Regions from separate parts of the Homo sapiens genome. Here region 1 is linked to region 2. Evidence: fine-mapped expression QTL. A gene starts in region 2. The other region holds a variant in brackets. All regions are shown on one strand. Distances are from middle to middle.

Region 1 (8,000 bases), 100 kb after region 2:
TACCCAGCAGTGGGATTGCTGGATCATATGGTAGCTCTTGCTGTATTTTCAGTTTTTTGAGCAACTTCCAAACTGTTCTCCAGAGGGGTTGTACTAATTTACATTCCCACCAGCAGTGTATGAAAGTTCCCTTTTCTCCACATCCTCGCCAGCATTTATTATTGCCTGTCTTTGGGATAAGTGCCATTTTAACAGAGGTGAGATGATTTCTCGTTGTAGTTTTGATTGTCATTTCCGTGATCATGTTGAGCACCTTTTATGTGCCTGTTTGCCATTTGTATGTCGTCTTTTGAGAAGTGTGTCTTCAGATCTTCTGCACATTTTAAAATTAGATTATTAGATTTTTTCCTATAGAGTTTGAACTCTTTATATATGCTGGTTATTAATCCCTTGTCGGATGGTTTGCACATATTTTCTCTCATTCTGTGGGTTGTCTCTTCACTTTGTTGTTTGTTTCTTTTCTTGTGCAGAAGCTTTTTAACTTGATGTGATCCCATTTGTCTGCTTTTGCTTTGGTTGCCAGTGCTTGTGGGGTATCACTCAAGAAATTTTTGCCCAGACCAATGTCCTGCAGAGTTTCCCCACTGTTTTCATATAATAGTTTCATAGTATGAGGTCTTAGATTTATGTCTTTAATCCATTTTGATTTGACTTTTGTATATGGTGAGAGATAGAGGTCTAGTTTCATTCCTCTGCATATGGATATCCAGTTACCCCAGCACCATTTATTGTGAAGAGACTGTCTTTTCCCCACTGTATGTTCTTGGCACCTTTGTTGAAAATGAGTTTATTGTAGGTATGTGGATTTGTTTCTGGGTTCTCTGTTCTGTTCTATCGGTCTGTGTTTCTGGGTTCTCTGTTCTGTTCTGTCGGTCTGTGTTTCTGTTGTTTGTATGCCAGTACCACGCTGTTTTGGTTACTATAGCTCTGTGGTATAATTTGAAGGCAGGTTAATGTGATTCTTCCAGTTTTGTTCTTTTTGCTCAAGATAGCTTTGGCTGTTCTGAGCTTTTTTTGTGGTTCCTATAAATTTTAGGATTCTTTTTTCTCTGTGAAGAATGTCATTGGTATTTTGATCACAATTGTATTGAATCTGTAGATTGCTTCGGGGAGTACAGACATTTTAACAATATTGATTTTTCCAATCCATGAACATGGAATATCTTTCCCTTTTTGTGTCTTTTTAAATTTCTTTCATCAGTGTTTTATAGTTTTCATTGTAGAGATCTTTCACTTATTTGGTTAATTCTTAGGTATTTAATTTTATTTGTGTCTGTTGTAAATGAGATTACTGGTGGCATATAGAAATGCTACTGATTTTTGTGTGTTGACTTTGTATCCTGCAACTTTACTGAATTTGTTGATCAGTTCTAATAGTATTCTTGTGGAGTCTTTAGGCTTTTCCAAGTATAAGATTATATATATATCATATACAAACAAGGATAATTTGATTCTTCCTTTCCAGTTTGGATCCCCTCTATTTCTTTCTCTTGTCTGATTACTCTAGCTAGGACTTCCAGTACTATGTTGAATAACAGTGGTGAAAGTGGACATCCTTGTTGTGTTCCAGATCACAAAGGAATGGCTTTCAGTGTTTCCCCATTTAGTATGATACTAGCTGTGGGTCTGTTGTATATGGCTTCTAGTATGTTGAGGTATGTTTCTTCTATACCCAGTTTTTTGAGGGCTTTTATCATGAAAGGATGTTGAATTTTATCAAATGGTTTTTCAGCATCAGTTAAAATGATCATATGGGTTTTGTCCTTCATTCTGTTGATATGATGTATTACATTGATTGATTTACCTATGTTGAACCATCCTTGCATCCCTGGGATAAATCCCACTTGGTCACGATGGATCATCTTTTTAATGTGTTGTTGAATTCCGAGGTATCGGTTGTAATGTCTCCTTTTTCATCTCTGATATTATTTGGGTTTTTTGTCTTTTTTTCTTAGTCTGGTTAATGGTTTGCCAATTTTATGTATCTTTTAAAATACCAACTTTTTGTTTCGTTGCTCTTTTGTATTTTATTTCAATTTCATTTATTTCTGCTTTGATCTTTATTATTTCTTCTATTTTGGGTTTGGTTTGCTCATGCTTTTCTTGTTTTTTAACATCCATTGTTTTCGTATCTGTTATATGTATGTTTTTGGATTTCAGGTTACCATGAGGATTGCAAATACTGTCTTATAACTCAGTATTTTAAACCGATAACACTGATTGCATAAACAAACAAGCAAACAAAATGAAAACTTATGCAAATGTTAACTTTGTTTCCCTGCTTTTTAACTCTTTGTTGTTTCTCTTTATATCTTACTGTACCATGTCTTGAAAAGTTGTTGTAGCTACTATTTTTGGTTGGTTCATCATTTTGTCTTTCCACTTAAGAGTAGTTTACACACCACAATTACAGTGTTATAATATTCTGTGTACTTTCTATTACTGGTGAATTTTGTACCTTCAGACGATATCTTACTGCTCATTAATGTCTTCTTTTAGATGGAAATAAAGTATTTAGTATTTCTTGTCAGACAGGTCTGGTGTTGATGAAATCCCTCAGCTTTTGTCTGGGAAAGTATTTCTCCTTCGTGTTTGAAGGATATTTTTGCTGGATGTACTATTCTAGGGTAAAAGTTTTCTTCCTTCAGCACTTGAAACATGTCATGACACTCTCTCCTGACCTGTAAGGATTCTAGTGACAAGTCTACTGCCAGATATATTGGAACCCCATTATATGTTATTTGTTTCTTTTCTCTTGCTGCTTTTAGGGTCCTTTCTTTATCCTTGATGTTTGGCAGTTTGATTATTAAATGCCTTGAGATAGTCTTATTTGGATTAAACTATCCTGGTTTTCTGTAACCTTCTTGTACTTGAATGTTGTTAAGCTTACTACCTCTGTCTCTCTCTACCCCCTCTTTAAGGCCAATAACTTAGATTTGTCCTGTTGAGGTTATTTTGCAGATCCTGTAGGTGTGCTTTATTGTGTTTTACTTTTTTTTTCTTTTGTCTCCTCAAGTTGTGTGTTTTCAAAGAGCCTGTCTTCAAGCTAATTCTTTAGCTTGATCAATTCTATTGAGAGATTGATGCATTCTTTAGTATGTCAGTTGCGTTTTTCAACTCTAGAATTTCTGCTTGATTCTTTTAAATTATCTCAATCTGTTTATTAAATTTATCTATGAATATAGAATTCTGAATTCCCGGCCAGGTGCTATGGCTCACACCTGTGATCCCAGCACTTTGGGAGGCTGGGGCGGGTGATCACTTGAGGTCAGGAGTTTGAGACCAGCCTGGCCAACACGGTGAAACCCCGCCTCTACTACAACATACAAAAAAAAAAAAAAAGTAGCTGGACATGGTGGTGCGCACCTATAATGACAGCTACTTGGGAGGCCGAGGCAGGAGAATCGCTTGAACCCGGGAGGCGGAGGTTGCAGTGAGCCGAGATTGTGCCACCACACTCTAGCCTGGGTGACAGAGCAAGGCTCCGTCTGAAAAAAAAAAAAAAAAATTCTGAATTCCCTTCCTGTGTTATCTTGAATTTGTTTGAGTTTCCTCAAGACAGCTATTTTGAATTCTCTGTCTGAAAGGTCACATATCTCTCTCCAGGATTGGCCACTGGTGCCTTATTTGGTCCCTTTGTTGAGGTCATGATTTTTGGTCCCTTTGTTGAGGTCGTGATTTTCTGTATGGTCTTGATGTTTGTGGATGTTTGTTGGTGTCTGGGCATTGAAGAGTTATATATAGGCCTTGTATCTTGTAGGCCTCACAGTCTGGGCTTGTTTGTGCCCATTCTTCTTGGGAAAGCTTTCCAGGTATTCAAAGGGACTTGGGTCCCAAGCCCAAAAACACTGTGCTTTTTGCAGACTCATAGCGGTATACCACTTTGGTGATTTTGGATAAGATCCAGAAGAATTCTCTGAATTACCAGGTGGAGACTTCTGTTCTCTTCCTTTACTTTCTTTCAAATAAATGGAATCTCTGTGTTGAAATGCCTGGAGCTGGATGGAGATGGGGTGATGGAGGCACCCCTTTGGTGACTTACCACTGTGACTGTGCTGGGTCATACCTAAAGCCAGCACAGCACAGCACTGGGGCTTGCCCAAGACCCTCTGTAACCACTACCTGACTACCGCCTAAATTTGCCTAAATTCGCTCAAGGCCCTAGGGTTCCTACTATTAGCAGGTGGGGAA[G/A]CCAGCCAGGTTTGTGTCTTTCCCTTCAGGGCAGTGAGTTCCCCCAGGTCCCTAATGGGTCCACAGATACTGTCCTTGAGCTTAGAAATCTACCTGGTATTCTGTCCTACTGTGGCTAAGCTGGCCTTTAAACCACAAGACAAAGTCCTTCCCACTTTTACCTCTGCTTTCCATAAGCAAAGGAGTCTCTCCTGGTGGCTACCACTGTGACCACCGGCCCATGAGTTCTGCTAATATTCATTTAAAGCCCAAGGGCTTTTTAGTCAGCTTGTGGTGAATGCTGCCAGGCCTGGGACTCACCCTTCAGGGCAGTGGGCTCTCCTCTGGCCCAGGGCAGGTCCAGAAATGCTGTCCAGGAGCCAGGTTCTCGAATTGCGGATCCCAGGAGCCTGCTTGGTGCTCTACCCCACTGTGATCGCTCTGGTACTTAAGGTGCAAGACAAAGTCCCCTTTTTCCTCTACTTTTCTCAAGCAGAAGGAATCTTTCACCATAGCCATCACAGCTCAGTATACGTTGGATCTCACCTGAAGCCAGAACATCTCTGAGTCTCACCCAAGGCCCATGGCATACTACATGGGTATCACTGTCAGTTATTCAAGGTTCAAGGGCTCTTTAGTCAGCAGGTTAAGATTAAGCCAAGATTAATCCTTCCAGGACTGGGTCTTTCCCTTTAAGGCAGTGGGTTTCCTTCTGGGCCAGAGTGTATCTAAAAATGTCATCTTGGAGCTGGGGCCTGGAATGGCGACCTCACGACTCTGCCGGTGCCCTGTTGTAGCTGTGGCTGAGCTGGTATCCAAGATACAACACAAAGTCCTTTTTACTCCTTGCTCTCGTCTCCTCAAGCAGAAGGAGTCACTTGCATTGCTGCAGTCAGTGCTGCCTGGGGTTGGGGGAGGGGTGGCGTCAGCAATTCAAGATGGTCTTTCCTACCCTCAGTGTCCCTTTCAGCAATACAAAGTTAAAAGCAGGTACCATGATTGCTCACCTGGTTTTTATTCTTATAATGGTGCTTTTTTTGTGTGTAGTTGTTAAAATTTGGTGTTCCAGAAGGGGAAGATGATTGGTGGAGGCTTCTGTTCTGCCATCTTGCTCCACCCCTGCCTTTTTTTTTAATGGATCCACAACATTCATTCCAAAATATTTATAAAATGCCTACTTAATGCCAGGTTTGGCAGACCTAGCAGTGAACAAGGCCTTTGTTCTCATGGAGCTTGCATGCTAGAGTGGGAATACACTCTGAAATAACATAAGTAAATAAAAGACATATAAGTAACTGTTTATCAGTTAATGATACAGGCCATGCTCAGAATTAAAATTTGGTGATATGATGGTGTCTGTTTTATATTGGATGATCAGGGAAAGCTTCTAATGAGGGAACATTTAAGTAGAGATGTGACTAAGGAGCCAGTGTAAACCAGGATTGTTCTAGACAGTGCACTGGCCTTAAGGTGAGAATTAGCTTCGCGTGTTGAAGGAACTAGAGGGAAAGTCTATATGGTTGGAGGATATTTGTATGAGACTAAGTTGAAAGGGAGGCAAGGGCTAATTGTATAAAATATTACAGGCCATGGTTAGAAGTTTGGACTTTGCTCAAAGTTTGAAGGGAAACTCCTAGAAGATTTTAAGCAGAGAAAAAAAGTCTGGCTTGTTTTTAGAAAATTGATTATAAGGGGGTCAGGAGTGCAGTGAGATCAGAAGAGAAATGATAGTGGCTTAGATAAGGGTGGTGATAAAGAAATACGTAATTGGGATATAGTTAGGAAATCAGTAGGTCCTACTAATGGGTAGAGTGTCGAGAGAGAGAGAAAACTGGCTAGGAGGAAATACGATTTACCAAAATGAAGAAGGCTTGGGAGAAGGGGGAGATGAAGAGCTCTGTTTTTTTTGAGGGGGGTGGGGTTTGAGACAGAGGCTCACTCTTATCACCCAGGCGGGAATGCAGTGGCGCGATCTCGGCTCACTGCAACCCTTGCCTTCTGGGTTCAAGCGATTCTCCCACCTCAGCCTCCCAAGTATCTGGGACTACAGGTGCCTGTCACCATGCCTGGCTTGCTTTTTGTATTTTTAGTAGAGATGGTGTTTCCCTATGTTGACCACGCTGACCTCAAGTGATGCACCCGCCTGGGCCTCCCAAAGTGCTGGGATTATAGGCTCGAGCCACTGTGCCAGCCAAGAGTTTTATTTTGTACTTTAAAATTGAACTGTCTTTTAGACAATCGTAGAGAGGTCAAGTAGTCATTTGGTTACTCAGCTAATTCCAGGCACAGCTGGAGATAGACATAAGGTAGATTATAGCATATAGCTGCTGCCTAAAGCCAGGGCATTTGATTTGAGAATAGAAAGGGGCCTTGCAACTGTGATGTGGGACCAGGTGATTCAGCATTTGTAAGTTGTACAAAAGCGGAGCCAGGGTTGACCAAGAAGGACTGCAAGGAGTTAGTTATGTTGATGGCTGCTATGAGGTCAAGTAGTCATAAAATACAATTTTCTATTAATTATTTTTTCAGTCCCTGTTGTTAAATATTTGTGTTTATTCTGGTTTCTTTTCCACTATTACAAACACTTATTGAATGATTGAAGGTAATCTGTTTACTTTTGTTTCTCTAGAAACAATTTTTAGACATAAAATTTTTAGTTCAAAGGTCATAAACATTTTTAAAGCTTTTTAGACAAGCTGATTGTCCTTCAGAGAAACTAACCAGTTTATATTCCCATCAACATTGATAGTATCAGACTGGTAAGCAGTACTATTAATTTCATTTAACAACATTGATCAGGGCAGATGGAGACATGTGCAACAAATGGAATAGGAAGACAGGACTTCTTTCTGAGATGGCATTCATTACATTCTAATTTAAAATGGAAGTTTTAACAATTAGAAGTGAAAAGTAATTGTTTTCTTTTCATCTAGATATGGTAAACTACAAAATACATTGTCACTGGGCTAGTTTCTTATATTGTACTCATACTTTTCTTTGTAAGACATGTACCACAGAGAATTGCTTCCATTGTGCTCATATTTCTTCCCTCAGCAGAAGTAATTGCTTTTTTTTGGAATGTTTTGAGAGAAGAGAGATCTTTGAGAAAGCACCTGTAGAAACTGCTTTCTCTGTATCTGACTTTACAGCTGAGAGGAAAAAGTCAGCTGATCGTGTCCAGATTATTCCATGTAAAAACAGAAACACGTAGCCTTGTTCTGGGCAATTGCAACAGTTCCTAAATGGCCTTACTATCCTTTTGCCGCTGCTTCTAACCTTTCTTTTTTTTTTTTTTTTTTTTTTTTTTTTTTTTTTTTTTTTGTGGAGAGATCTGTTAAATTTTTTTTTTCTTTTTTTTTTTTTCTTTTTTTTATTATACTCTAAGTTATAGGGTACATGTGCACATTGTGCAGGTTAGTTACATATGTATACATGTGCCATGCTGGTGCGCTGCACCCACTAATGTGTCATCTAGCATTAGGTATATCTCCCAATGCTATCCCTCCCCCCTCCCCCGACCCCACCACAGTCCCCAGAGTGTGATATTCCCCTTCCTGTGTCCATGTGATCTCATTGTTCAATTCCCACCTATGAGTGAGAATATGCGGTGTTTGGTTTTTTGTTCTTGCGATAGTTTACTGAGAATGATGGTTTCCAATTTCATCCATGTCCCTACAAAGGATATGAACTCATCATTTTTTATGGCTGCATAGTATTCCATGGTGTATATGTGCCACATTTTCTTAATCCAGTCTATCATTGTTGGACATTTGGGTTGGTTCCAAGTCTTTGCTATTGTGAATAGTGCCGCAATAAACATACGTGTGCAT
Region 2 (13,148 bases):
ATGTACCTATCTTAGGCCCAGTGATAGAAATAGTAGTCTTAGGCCCAGTGATAGAAATAGTAATCTTAGGCCCAGTAATAGAAATAGTAGATGTTTTTATATGTAATGTATTAAATATAATTGATTATATTAAAATATTTGCTTATGTTAAAAATAGAGAAAATTAACTTTCTGATATTTAAAACATTTACCAATGTGAAAAAGAGACACCCTCTGTGTATTTTTATAAAAGATAAAATGGGGTGAGAATAGGATTGCAAAGGAACAGAAGTCGTGACCAAATTAGAAGAAAAGATGATTAGGTTTGCTATCAATTAATATTCGCTAATTAATATAATAAGCTTGGAATTATTTAAGGAACACTTTTCTAGGTCACATTTATTATTGTCATGAAAGGTAAAATCATTTTCTTTAAGATAAAAACATTGACTGCACTAAAGAGTCATCATTTGCAATGCAGTAGTGTCCTAAATCTCTTATTCCCAGATGTCAAGATTATGTCTACAAATTAAGAAAATTTCAAGTTGAAATAAGTATTCTAAACCGAAGACATCTGATGTTAGGAGCAAATACATTTTCATTCCGATCCTGGGGGTAGTTTCATGTTTTCTTTTGTTTTTCTTTTTTTGTCTGAGGGTCCTTGGGAACACTCCTTATTCATTGTGGCTGAATTTTTTCAACATCAGCATTGAATACTACAAAGGATTGTATCAGATATAAATCAATAGTCAATAATTTTATTAAGAAGTAAAAACCATCCATTTAAACTGAATTACAGTGGGAAAATATATTTGTAAAGAAGGCTTAGAAAATAAACAATAACAATAAACTAGAATGAGATTATTTCAAGCATATATTTTCTAACTATTCGTAGGTAAAGTTTTAAAAATTGAATGGATTCTAGTCCTCTAATCCCTGTCACTAGAAAATGACTGACCTACAGCATGCTTTAGTATCTTTTCTTCACAATAAGAGAATAATATTTTAATAATGACACACAATAATTGCTAAACAGGCTTGATGGGACAGTAAGCGTAGTTCCACAAAGATGCCAAGCAGCCTGCGTGGCCTGGGGCATTATATAAAAATGAGCTAGCCATTCAAGTAGAATGTACCTCTGCAAGGCTGCAATATTACTTACATTAAAGGGCCCATCATCAAGGGGACAAGGGCTATTTCCCCAAGTCTAACGTGGATTGGAAAAATAAGGAATACTCATCTGAAACCATATTGTGTTTGTGTTTGGGCATCACTAAACACTCTGCCGAACTTTGGCTGGGCGTGGTGGCTTACGCCTGTAATCTCAGCACTTTGGGAGGACGAAGTGGGAGGATCGCCAGAGGCCAGGAGTTCAAGACCAGCCTGGCCAACATGATAAAACTCCATCGCTACTAAAAATACAAAAATTAGCCAGGTGTGGTGGTGCACACCTGTAATCCCAGCTACTCGGGAGGCTGAAGCATGAGAATCACTTGAACCTGGGAGGCGGAGGTTGCAGTGAGCTGAGATTGTCTCACTGTAGTTAAGCCTGGGTGACAGAGCGACACTCCACCTCAAACAACAACAACACTATCAAAACACTATCAAATTTTAATTGGCCATTTTATTTTATTTCATTAGCCTCACAGTGAAAATAAGAAAACAAGCACAAGGATGCTTATGATTTCTCCAGGACCATTCAGCCTCTGGGGATATCCCCTGGGAATATCTCCCAAATCTCCTGAACCTCTTTCTTTATTGCCTGGTTAATCCTTTCTTACTGTATTATGTTGAACTATAAGAAATGGCAGATGTTTGAACATTTCTGACTTAGAAAAATGGCAATTTCATTGTTTCAAATTAATGCATATTGTTTAGATAGGAAGAACACACTTGAAAATCATTATAACCATTTATACTACAATGAATACCAAAAAAATAGGTTCAAAATATACTGTTTGCAGCTTACTTGATCAGAGAGAGAACAAATTGGCAAGAACCTGTTTTTATATCAATGCTGCCTCCCATGTTAATACATTAATGTGTGCCATTTAAAATATGTTTACAAAATTGCTAATACATCATCAACACATGAAATCTCACGATGTCTTTAGAAGACACATTATGTTTACTTTTTACTAAAGGAAGCTCAAATAGTGAAGCAAAGTAACTTTCCTAAGGAAAGACTCTACGTTCAAAATTTATACAACATCCAATCATTTCTCACCACCTCTATTGCTAATGTCTGGCCCAAGCTACCAATGGAAGATTCCAAACAATTTTTTAGAATTACAATGAGACAACATTCTATACTGAGCCTTTCCTGGGCAAACCGGGATATTTGGTCATTCACCGACAAAGCTTTACATAATCTGTGAGCATCCACCTCCTCAACACATCTCTTTTCCCATCATTTTTGCCTGTTCTGGCTACATTGGCCTCTTTGGCATTTTTGGAAAACCCTGAAATACACAGACTTCTCAGGGCGATTGCACTTGCTGTTCTCTCTACCTGGAATGCTCTTCTGAAAATCTCTGTGGTTTGCTCCATGACATCCTTCAGGTCTTTGCTCAGGTATTCCCTTCCCAGAGATACCTTCCCTGACTACCACATATAAAATAACAGCTGTCCCCTACTGTCTTAGTCCATTCTCATTTTATAAATTTACCCAGTAAAGATCTGCCTGAGACTGGGTAATTTATAAAGGAAAAAGGTTTAATTGACTCACAGTTTGCCATGACTGGGGAGGCCCCAGGAAACTTACAGTCGTGGTGGAAGGGGAAGCAAACATGTCCTTCTTCACATGATGGCAGGAAGGGGAAGAGCCAAGCAAAAGCCCCTTATAAAACCATCAGATCTCAGGAGAACTCACTATCACGAAAACAGCAGCATGGGGGTAGCTGCCCCCATGATTCAATTACCTTCCACTGGGTCCATCCCATAACATGTGGGATTACGAGAACTACAATTCAAGATGAGATTTGGGTGGAGACACACGCAAACAACATCACCCACACACTTCATATCTCTATCACAATGGATTCAGTTTCTCCTTAGCACTTATCACCAAATATAATGAAATATTATAATATATGTGTTTATTGTCTACCTACTCCAACCGCCCTGTACAATGTAAGCACGAAGAGGTGAGTGGCTACATCTATTATGTATACTGCCCTAATGCTAGGTGGATAGTTAGGTACTGTACTAGTTTCTTGAGGCCACCATAACAAATTACCATAAACTGAGTGGCCTAAAACAACAGGAGTTTATTATCTCACAGTTCTGGAGGATACAAGTCCAAAATCAAGAAGAACAGGGCCATACTTCCTTCAAAGGCTCTAAGAGAAAATCCTTTCTGGACTCTTCTAGCATTTGGTGGTTGCCAGCAATTCTTGACATCCTTTGACTTGTGGCAGTATCACTCTATTCTCTGATACCATCTTCACATAGCTGTCTTTCCTCTGTGTGTCTCTGTGTCTAATTTCCCTCTTCATATAAGGACATCGGTCATTGGATTAGGGTCTGCCCTAATCCAGTATGACCTCATCTTAACTCAGTTACATGTACAAAGACCCTATTTGCAAATGAGATCACATTCACAGGTAATAAAAGTTAGGAATGTACATGTTTTGGGGGCACAGCTGAACCTAGCACAGGTACTCGACAAAATATCTACTGAATAGATGAGAAGAAAACTTGTAAACCTGAATTAGAATTGTAGAACTTCCCAGGATCTGTTATTGTAATTTCACAGTTGCTTATGGGAGATCAAATTCTTTTGTGTCTGTTGAATTTATAAGATGTCTTTATCAGATTCCCTCCATCTTCACCCTTCCAGCAACAACAAAAATAACTACTCTTAATGAATTATGCTTTTCATAAACTTTTTTGTGATTTGCAAATATGTCATGTCAATATGTAACAGCTTATTTTGGTTTTAAAAGAGACATTTGGATTTATAAAATCCCAAAAGAAAATATATACCTGAAAACATAATACCTAAGATATTTGAAAGTTGGCTCTCTCACTGGGCCAAGGTCATTACCATAGCTATCTCATAATAAGTTTTTAGTTTGACTCGTGTTTTCAGTTGGCAATAAATATGTTTTTTGAGCAAAATTATAATAGCTATGTTGCTTTTTAAATTTGTACCCTTGTGTCTTTAACTATCTAATTTTAAAATTTATCACAAAACTCAAGTAGCATAAAGGAAAAAAATAAATGCCCTTATGCAAATGGCAATTTCTTAAACATAAACAATTGCATAGTCACAGACATACAGTCATAAAGTATTTTTCATGTTACAGAAAATAAGAAACAAAAACATTTTATTATAAGGAAGCAAAAGAAAATAAAGATGGAAAACAAAATATTTAAAAAATATAAAGAGATTTTAGAAATAGCCTTGTTCCCCGAGACTAGAACATGCAGAGAAAATATAATTAGAGGAAGTGACATCATTCAGTCAAATATCATCAACACTAGAGGCTCAGAGAGGGAAAATTGTTTGCCTAAAGAAATAAAAGAGACTTTCACTAAGTATATTTACACTAGTCTGGGAAATCAGCATAACGACATGACATAAATACCATTTATTTGTGACTCCAACTCAAATTGTTCTTCTGACTGAAAATAACCAATGTATTTAATAGATTACTGATTAGGATTTTTCCTTGATAAATGAAACTGCTAAGGATTAGTAGTAAAAATAATGTCCTCTTTTTTTATGTGACAGGAAACAAATTTTCATTATTTTAATCCGCTCCCAGATAATATTCAGGAGTCAAAAATTAAAAATCATGAAATGTCTGTATCTTCTAGACTTTGCTTTAATGTTATTTGTTGAAAAATTTTTTTATTTGATTAAAGTTTTCTTATGCATTTGTGGGATCAAGTACTTTATTTCAGAAGTGAATAAATTAGCTTAAAAAGTTAGAGCTTAGCCAGGCGTGGTGGCTCATGCCTGTAATCCCAGCACGTTGAGAGGCTGAGGCAGGCAGATCACTTGGGTCAGGAGTTTGAGACCAGCATGGCCAACATGGCAAAACCCCGTCCCTACTAAAAATACAAAGAAATTAGCCAGGTGTGGTGGCACACACCTTTTATCCCAGCTACTGTGTTGGTTGAGGCATGAGAATTGCTTGAACCTGGGAGACAGAGGTTGCAGTGAGCCAAGATCACACCACTGCACTCCAGCCTGGGTGACAGAGTGAGACTCCATCTCAAAAAACAAACAAACAAACAACAACAACAAAAAACACCTAGAGCTTAAAAAAGAAATTTTCTCATTCCAATGTTTGATTCTGGCTCTTGCATAAATGGAAGTATGTTTTGAAAATGCTCTGAATGATGCACCTATATATCATATAATTTTACCTACGCACACTGTATATATACGTATATGTATGAACATAACATTATTATACATAATATGTATATATTATAGATTATATTATATATACATTATATAAGGTATATAAATATTGCTTAGCATTAGATTTAGTAAAAAATAAAGGGCTAATGAAATTTTTTTGACAGGCCTCTGTCTCTTGATGTCCTGAAATGTTTATCTCACTACCATTAAGATAATCCAATAATCAAAAAGGCACCCCCTAGTCTGGTAGCATATAAACAATAAAGCATTTCAAAATGTAATTATTTACATTTAGAAAGTCATTATATTACTTTGATTAGCTTTAGAATAATTCCTGAGAATATCTTAAGTTCTCTAAAATTTTCCATTTTCCTCCTTTGCAATTCTAACCAACATTCTCTGTAATATTGAAGAAATGCTAAGCATTAAGAAACTTGCTTTGAAATTCTGGTCTCCATCATTCATTATAGTAAACCATTATTTCTTCTGCACATCTGGCTTACAGTAAAGTTGTATCAAATTATTCTGTTCATTTATTGCACAATTAGTTGTATTTCTTTTATAATATTTTTGCCTTAGGCAGTATCAAAACTTTTAATTATTATAAAATTAAAATTGTTATCAAATGGCTGTTCTTTGGTGGACTATATTATTTTACATAATTTTAATGCTATAAATTCTAATTCCTTCCCCACTATATTTAAAAAAAATTTAATTAATTACGCTGCATTAAATTTAAAGATGAAGACATTAAATTTGTAAATGAAAAGTTCTAAAAATAATATATAATTTTTAAAAACAATTACAAAACAGAAGTACATTAGTAGCATGCAAACATTTCAAAACTGGTATGTTTTAAGCAAGCATTGTAAAAGGATATATAAAAGAAATAAAAAGGAAGGAAAAAGTTATTGAACGAAGTATGTTTAATAAGTTAGCATTCACAAACGCTATAGGACTATAATGCTTAGGACTATAACCTAAGTCAGTGAGTTAAAAATGTACCCATAAACACAAGCTTAGAGACTCCTTTTAAGCTATTTCCTTCCAAATTTTTTCCTCTTTCTGAAAATGGAATATAACTGTGCTTTTGTATTTTTCTTAAGAATCCATACTCACTGAAAGCCTTACAAAGCTAAATATAGTTGATCCCTCAAGAAATGCAATAAAGAAAAATGTTTCTGAAGTTTTTTGACTTCTGAAGTGAAAATTGTCATATAGTCCATTTTATTTTTAATTTTTTATACTGAAACTGTAAACCTATCATTTACGTCAAACTCCCATGCAATTCATTCAAAATGTAAAGGAAATTATACAAAGTGAGACTCCATCTCAAAAAACCAACAAACAAACGACAACAACAAAAAACGCCTAGAGCTTAAAAAAGAAATTTTCTTATTCCAATGTTTGATTCTGGCTCTTGCATAAATGGAAGTATGTTTTGAAAATGCTCTGGGTGATGCACCTATATATCATATAATTTTACCTGCGCACACTGTATATATATGTATATGTATGTACGTAACATTATTATACATAATTATGTATATATTATAGATTATATATACATTATATAAGGTATATAAATATTGCTTAGCATTAGATTTAGTAAAAAATAAAGGGCTAATGAAATTTTTTTGACAGGCCTCTGTCTCTTGATGTCCTGAAATGTTCATCTCATTACCATTAAGATAATCCAATAATCAAAAAGGCACCCCCTAGTCTGGTAGCATATAAACAATAAAGCATTTCAAAATGTAATTATACATATTTAGAAAGTCATTATATTACTTTGATTAGCTTTAGAATAATTCCTGAGAATATCTTAAGTTCTCTAAAATTTTCCATTTTCCTCATTTGTAATTCTAACATACCTTATTTGTATATCTGTATATTTGTATATCTGTATATCTGTAACAAAAGATACATAATTCTAAATCTCTTCTCCAAGTAGCAGAAGCAGACTCCTTGCTAGTCAACCTGACTTCTTGCAAAAGCTAATGGTTGTTACCTGAGTTTTGGTTACTATCATACCTGTGAAATAAATTAGCATTATTACAAGCATGTCAAAAATGCAGAGACATTAAATAACTTGCCTAAAGTCAGAAGTGAGTCAGAGACCCAGCTCAGGTTCCATCCAGACACTCTGCTTCCCAGGATCCTGTAACTGCATTGGGAATTTGTAATTATTTCTCCATTATTTGATTAGAAATAGGGACAATGTTGATTCTGGCTTCAATCCAGAAACAAACATGTGGACACAGGTTTAACTGAAAGAAAGCTAAAAGAGAAGATTCAAGGACAAATCCCAATACTCTGATATTTTTCTTTTTTCCCCACTTGTATGACTTTTTGTGAAAGATCCAATAATATATCTTTATAAAGATATATATATTTTACAACTTATTATTATGTTCATTCAGAGAATTTTTGTACTGTAACTTCAATAATGTTCCATTGAAGATTAAGTAAAAACGAAGTCCAGCTGAAACTTTGCTTTGTATTAAGGGTAATAACATTTTACCCACAAAAATATGAATTAATATGTCATCTCAACTAAAATATGGAGATAAGCCAAATTTTTCCTAGTTATAAAAAACAAGGCAGGTTAATAATTGCCAAGGTGAAATGGTCAGTTTATTTGCTCTCTAAGAAAAACAAAAGTATTCCCTGAGGTGCAAAATTGTGAAATTTAACTGGAAGCATCGATTATACTCTGGACAAGTTGTTCCTTTTGTTTTAAAATCCTCTAGAAGATTTTCTAATGTGTAATAGGCACTTGTTAGCTCCATTAATCGTATTGTGTAACAGTTTCTTACTGGAAATCTGGGTTCATCATTTCTTCTTTCCTTCTGATGTAACTCAAGCAGTTGTTTGCCATTTGTCCTGTGGTCCCTATTTATTCACTCAGATTCCAGTAAAATACCAAAGTTTTGTTTTCTTTCTGTTCTTTGTTATCTACTGGACTTGAGCACTGACGATGTTTGGTCTTCCCATTAAACATCTTCCTGTCCTTCACGTGGACATTTTGAAGATTATTAAGGGAAAGGTAATCCTGTTGATTTACTGGAAAAAAGAAGGAAAAAAAAAGCCAGTTAGACTGAAGTGATTTGCACACACACAGAAGAAGTGGAAATTATACATTCATAATTGTAGAGAATTCAAGCTGCTAATGTTAAATTTCAAAAGCAAAAATATGGGATTATTCGGCTAATTCAATAATGATCTCTGTGGTAAAATGACATATTTTGAAATACAAACTTATCTTTCCTTCTTGTATGCCTTTAGCTTTGTCCCCATTCAAGCAATAATTTAGCCTTGTGTTCATTTCCTCACTGGAGGGACATAACATTAACAGCAGCTAACATGTGGTATACTTATCATGTGCTAAACATGGTAATTTTATCAACTCACTCAGCCACACAGCCCTATAAGTAGGTACTGTTAATGATCTCCATTTCACAAATGACGAAACTGAGACACAGAGGTTTAAGTGACTTGCACGAGGTCACACAGCTAACAAGAGGTATAGCTGGGCTCAAAGGCAATCCTGCTCAGAATCTGTCCTCTTTTCTACTAAAGGTAGACTATGCTGTCTTTCGGAAACTTGGCTAGCATCATTACCTCAGGAGAAACTTGCAAAAGTTAATCAGGCAGTAAGGACTACTCTAGGGCCAATACTTTGTGGAGGAATTCCAAAAGCCAAATTTTCTTGGAGTAACATTATTCCATGGATGTACTGCCATAACATGGTGGAAGAACTATCATCAGGAAAGGTCAAAATTATGGCCAGGTGCGGTGGCTCACGCCTGTAATCCCAACGCTTTGGGAGGCTGAGGCAGGTGGATCACCTGAGGTCAGGAGTTCGAGACCAGCCTGGCCAAAATGGCAAAACCCCATGTATTTTTAGTTTCTACTAAAACTACAAAAATTATCCAGGTGTGGTGGTGGGCGTCTGTGGTACCAGCTACACAGGAGGCTGAGGAGGAGAATTACTTGAACCCAGGAGGCAGAGATTGCAGTGAGCCGAGATCGCGCCACTGCACTGCAGCCTGGGTGACAGAGCAAGACCCTGTCAAAAAAAAAGAAAAAGAAAAAAAGCAAGAAAGAAGAGTTGTGACCTTGCACAACTGCACCAAAGCTATGAAATGAGAATGAGACCTGAGATCACTGGCTGAAAAAAGTACAAGAAAAGCATGATATAATAGGACAACAAGTACAGTCCCACCAAGATCAGGCTGATTAGGCTCTCAAACACATTAAACGGACACTGTCAATTCTTTTTTCCTTTTCCTTTTGGAAGACCTTTTTCAGAGAACTCTTCAATTAATACATCAGTTACAGCACAATTTTCATCCAAACCCTCTGGACCCTGTATTGTGCCTGCCAGATTGAACACCTGTCCATTATTTGATACTTGACCCAGTCACCGTGGGAAGGTTTAATTCCAGATCTTGCCGCCTCCAGTCCACTCAAGCTTGCAGCGAGGAACATGTCTACTTAAGGCTGCATGAGGAACTAGACTCAGACAAATGATCTTATATCCTTGACTGTATTCTACCAGCATAAATTTCTGATGGTTATATTTTCCAAACTTGACTCCCAGTTCAGGAGGCACCCTTTTATGGGACTTATAAAACTCCATGCTCTGATTACAATGATAACATTTTAAACTTCAAATGTGCCCTTTATTAAAATATTTAGAACGGAGCGTATTGTAGATATCAAGGAAAGGGGTTGTTAAGAACAGTCTTCGTTCCACACAACTAGCAGAGCTTCCTCAGGTGGAGGTAATCAAATTCCTTCCTGAAATGCTGGTTTCAATGTCATCTCAGGCAGAGTCCTGAAAAACTAGAAAGTTTATTTGCACATAACGTAGGTCTCAGAAATTTCAATGGAGAAGCATTTTAAAATTAATAAAACTAAAACAGTTTTACTAGTGAGTTATCCTAAGTATTCCCATTATTGATGTAACTAGCAGAAAGTTTACATTAATAGATGATCAATAAATAGTTCCACCTTCACACACACTTTCTGGGAAAGATTCTGACAATATGAACTAGAAAAATAAGGGTAAAGGTGGATAAAGAAAAAGAGGAAGAAAAGAAAAATTGAGGTGCTTTGTAATGTGTCAACTTGGGTAGGCCGAACTACAGTTCCCAGAATTCCTTTTGCCTTATGTTTTCCATTAGGAGCAGTTGGCAGGCAGAAAGGAAGTGGCAGCCATCTTTGCAGCTCTCCCATGCTGTAACGTATCTCGTTGGCCTTAAGATAGTGGCTAAGCCTCCAGCTGTTTCACTTCCCTTTGGATATAATTTGGAGCCTCGTTTAGCACATTACAAATGGGTCTGGCTTCTGTAGGACACCCACATCAACCAAGGTCAGAGGCAACAAGAACTGACACAGGTTTCAGTCCGTCCTCATAGATTCCAGCTCCTGCTTCTATTACGCTCATCTACTCTCTCGCTTAACTGCAGTTCGTACTTCAAGCTCCAACATCATCCCTGGAGACAGCTGCCTTTCAAAGAGTACTTAACCAGCTCCCACAGTTGCATTAAGTCAAATCCCTTATATATCCTAGAAGCTCTGCTTCTATGATTGAACTCTGCCTGTAACTCTGAGGCTCCTGGACAGGAAAGTCGAATGCCTCAGAAGGAATTTTGTCACTGCACCATTATTTCTTCCTCCCAGAGCTCTCTGTTCTTTTGCTCACATCTGGATTGCTCTCCCTCTAGGCCTGCTACATGAGGCATGTAAAAAGTAATACTGATAGACATTTGGCAGATACTCCCAAATGTGTAGCTTCAGGTTCCACACAACCTATGTCCTCCCCTGCATACTAGTTAAGATAAAATGAAACGCTTATTCACTACTCATCTTTTCAGAGCTTTCTCACCTATGTGTTTGGATTTTTTTCCCCTCTGATTCTCAAACTAATTTTAGATTGGTTCCCTAGCAGGAAGAGTACAAAGATGTTTTCTTTTTTTTTTTCTGCCACAAAAAATAAAAAGTGTTCTTGCTGAGGAATATGTTTGTTTTTCTTTCTGTGTGTTTGCAAGGACTGTGGACTGGCATTTATTTTATGCTTCTGAATAATAACATCTTTCTTATTAAAGAAGAATCTCCCCAGAAGGTCACATGTCATTAAAAAAACAATTTTAACCAAATACACGTAAATTCTAATAGAAAACAGATTTTTTACCCGTAACACATGAAGAAGAAATTTAGCTATATTGTATAAAAATATGTAGGGAAAAAAGAACACAAGAGCTCGTGTTAAGTAAAACCACATTTTAAAATACGCCTTTAGGAACACGGAAGATGGAAGGTATCAGAAGATACTTGCTTTCATTCTACTCCTCGGTGATGATGTATCTGCTTTTTTTTTTTTTTTTTTGGATGAATTTGCAGTGTATCTTTTCATCCTGATGCCTAAATCCAGTCTCTATATGTACCTCTTTTCTCCAGTTTTTAGACTTTTAAAATATTATCTTTTCATGAAGAATTCAACTAATTGGAAAATGCGTGATTCCTACCACTATGACAATATCTGAAAGTAGAATCCTCAGGGTTGCAAGCTATTCTGACAAAATTTCTGAACTCTAGCAGAAAATGTAAAAATATACATTTGACAAAAATATATTTGCCCATTTGAATTTAAATTTTGTCTTTTTTTTACTCAGTTTTTATTTCTTAGAAAAAGGAAGACAATCTAAATATAATTCCCTGAGATATAGTTTCCTTTCACTTCAAAATAACTGTACATTAGGTTGAGAGACAAAAAAATTCATTGTCTACAATTACACATACTTTCTGATTAATCTGTTGGTTAGCCCACATTTAGTTCATCAGGCACAACTTATTTTTCTGCATGTGCATTTGGGACAATAACCGGGCATATGAAACCTTTAAAATTTACATTTAAAAATTTATATTTGCACTTGGATAACTTTGCCAATAACTAGAACTCCCTCAAAAACAAAGGCTAGGTCCCTGACTCCTATAGGCATGACCAAGAGTATACTACAAAATGATTCCTCTGAGACTGAAATGTTTTTTTCCTGCTTCCCCCTCAGAGACACATTGTGGAAAAATTCTAGAACTTTTAGAATAGACATTGTGTGCTTGACTCCAGCGATCAAAGATTCTGAAATATTGAGGCCCTATTTGAGAGTCATACACTTATACTAGTTTTATTTGTTGTTGTTGTTTATAATCTGAAGAAATGAACTTCAGCCATCTAGAACAAAAATAATTGGATTTGTTGGAGGGTTACGGACTGAGGTAAGTAGTACAATCAGTGACAGACTGATACAAGCCAAGGGAAGGCAGAATAAGGAAAGCTCCAAAAATCTCTCAAAGATGTGTTCTTGGATTTATTCTGTAGTATGCAGCCCTTAAAATGTTTTAATTTCAGTGGAATTCTGGCCTCTGTGTCTGTCCATACAAATCTCACATCCCTAAGAGGGAGAATCCAATTAGCCCAGTCATCGGTATTTCTTTCTGTTTTTTTCTTTTTCTTTCTTTCTTCCTTCCTTCCTTCCTTCCTTTCCTTTCCTTTCTTTCTTTCTTTTTCTTTCTTTCTTTCTTCTTTCTTTCTTTCTTTTTTTTTTTTTTGAGACAGAGTCTCACTCTGTTGCCTGGCTGGAGGATAGTGGTGCAATCTCAGCTCACTGCAACCTCCACCTCCCGGGTTCCAGCAATTCTCCTGCGTCAGCATCCCACGTAGCTGGGACTTGGGCATGCACCACCATGCCCAGCTAATTTTTGTATTTTTAGTAGAGATGGGGTT

What was found. PIP is the estimated chance that this variant, and not a neighbour inherited with it, causes the effect.
Region 1: its variant is fine-mapped to the expression of FGL1 in prefrontal cortex (CommonMind, PIP 0.93).

What each region holds. Positions count from the first base shown.
Region 1 is chr8:17,994,545-18,002,544 of GRCh38, forward strand. The region is part of intron 29 of PCM1 (pericentriolar material 1); the gene reads left to right. Among named protein-coding and RNA genes, the nearest start is that of PCM1, 76 kb to the left of the region's middle. The variant G/A (reference allele first, on the strand shown) is at 4,192.
Region 2 is chr8:17,887,995-17,901,142 of GRCh38, forward strand. It overlaps FGL1 (fibrinogen like 1), which reads right to left and starts at 7,530. Exons shown (of 8, transcript NM_004467.4): 1 at 7,453-7,530.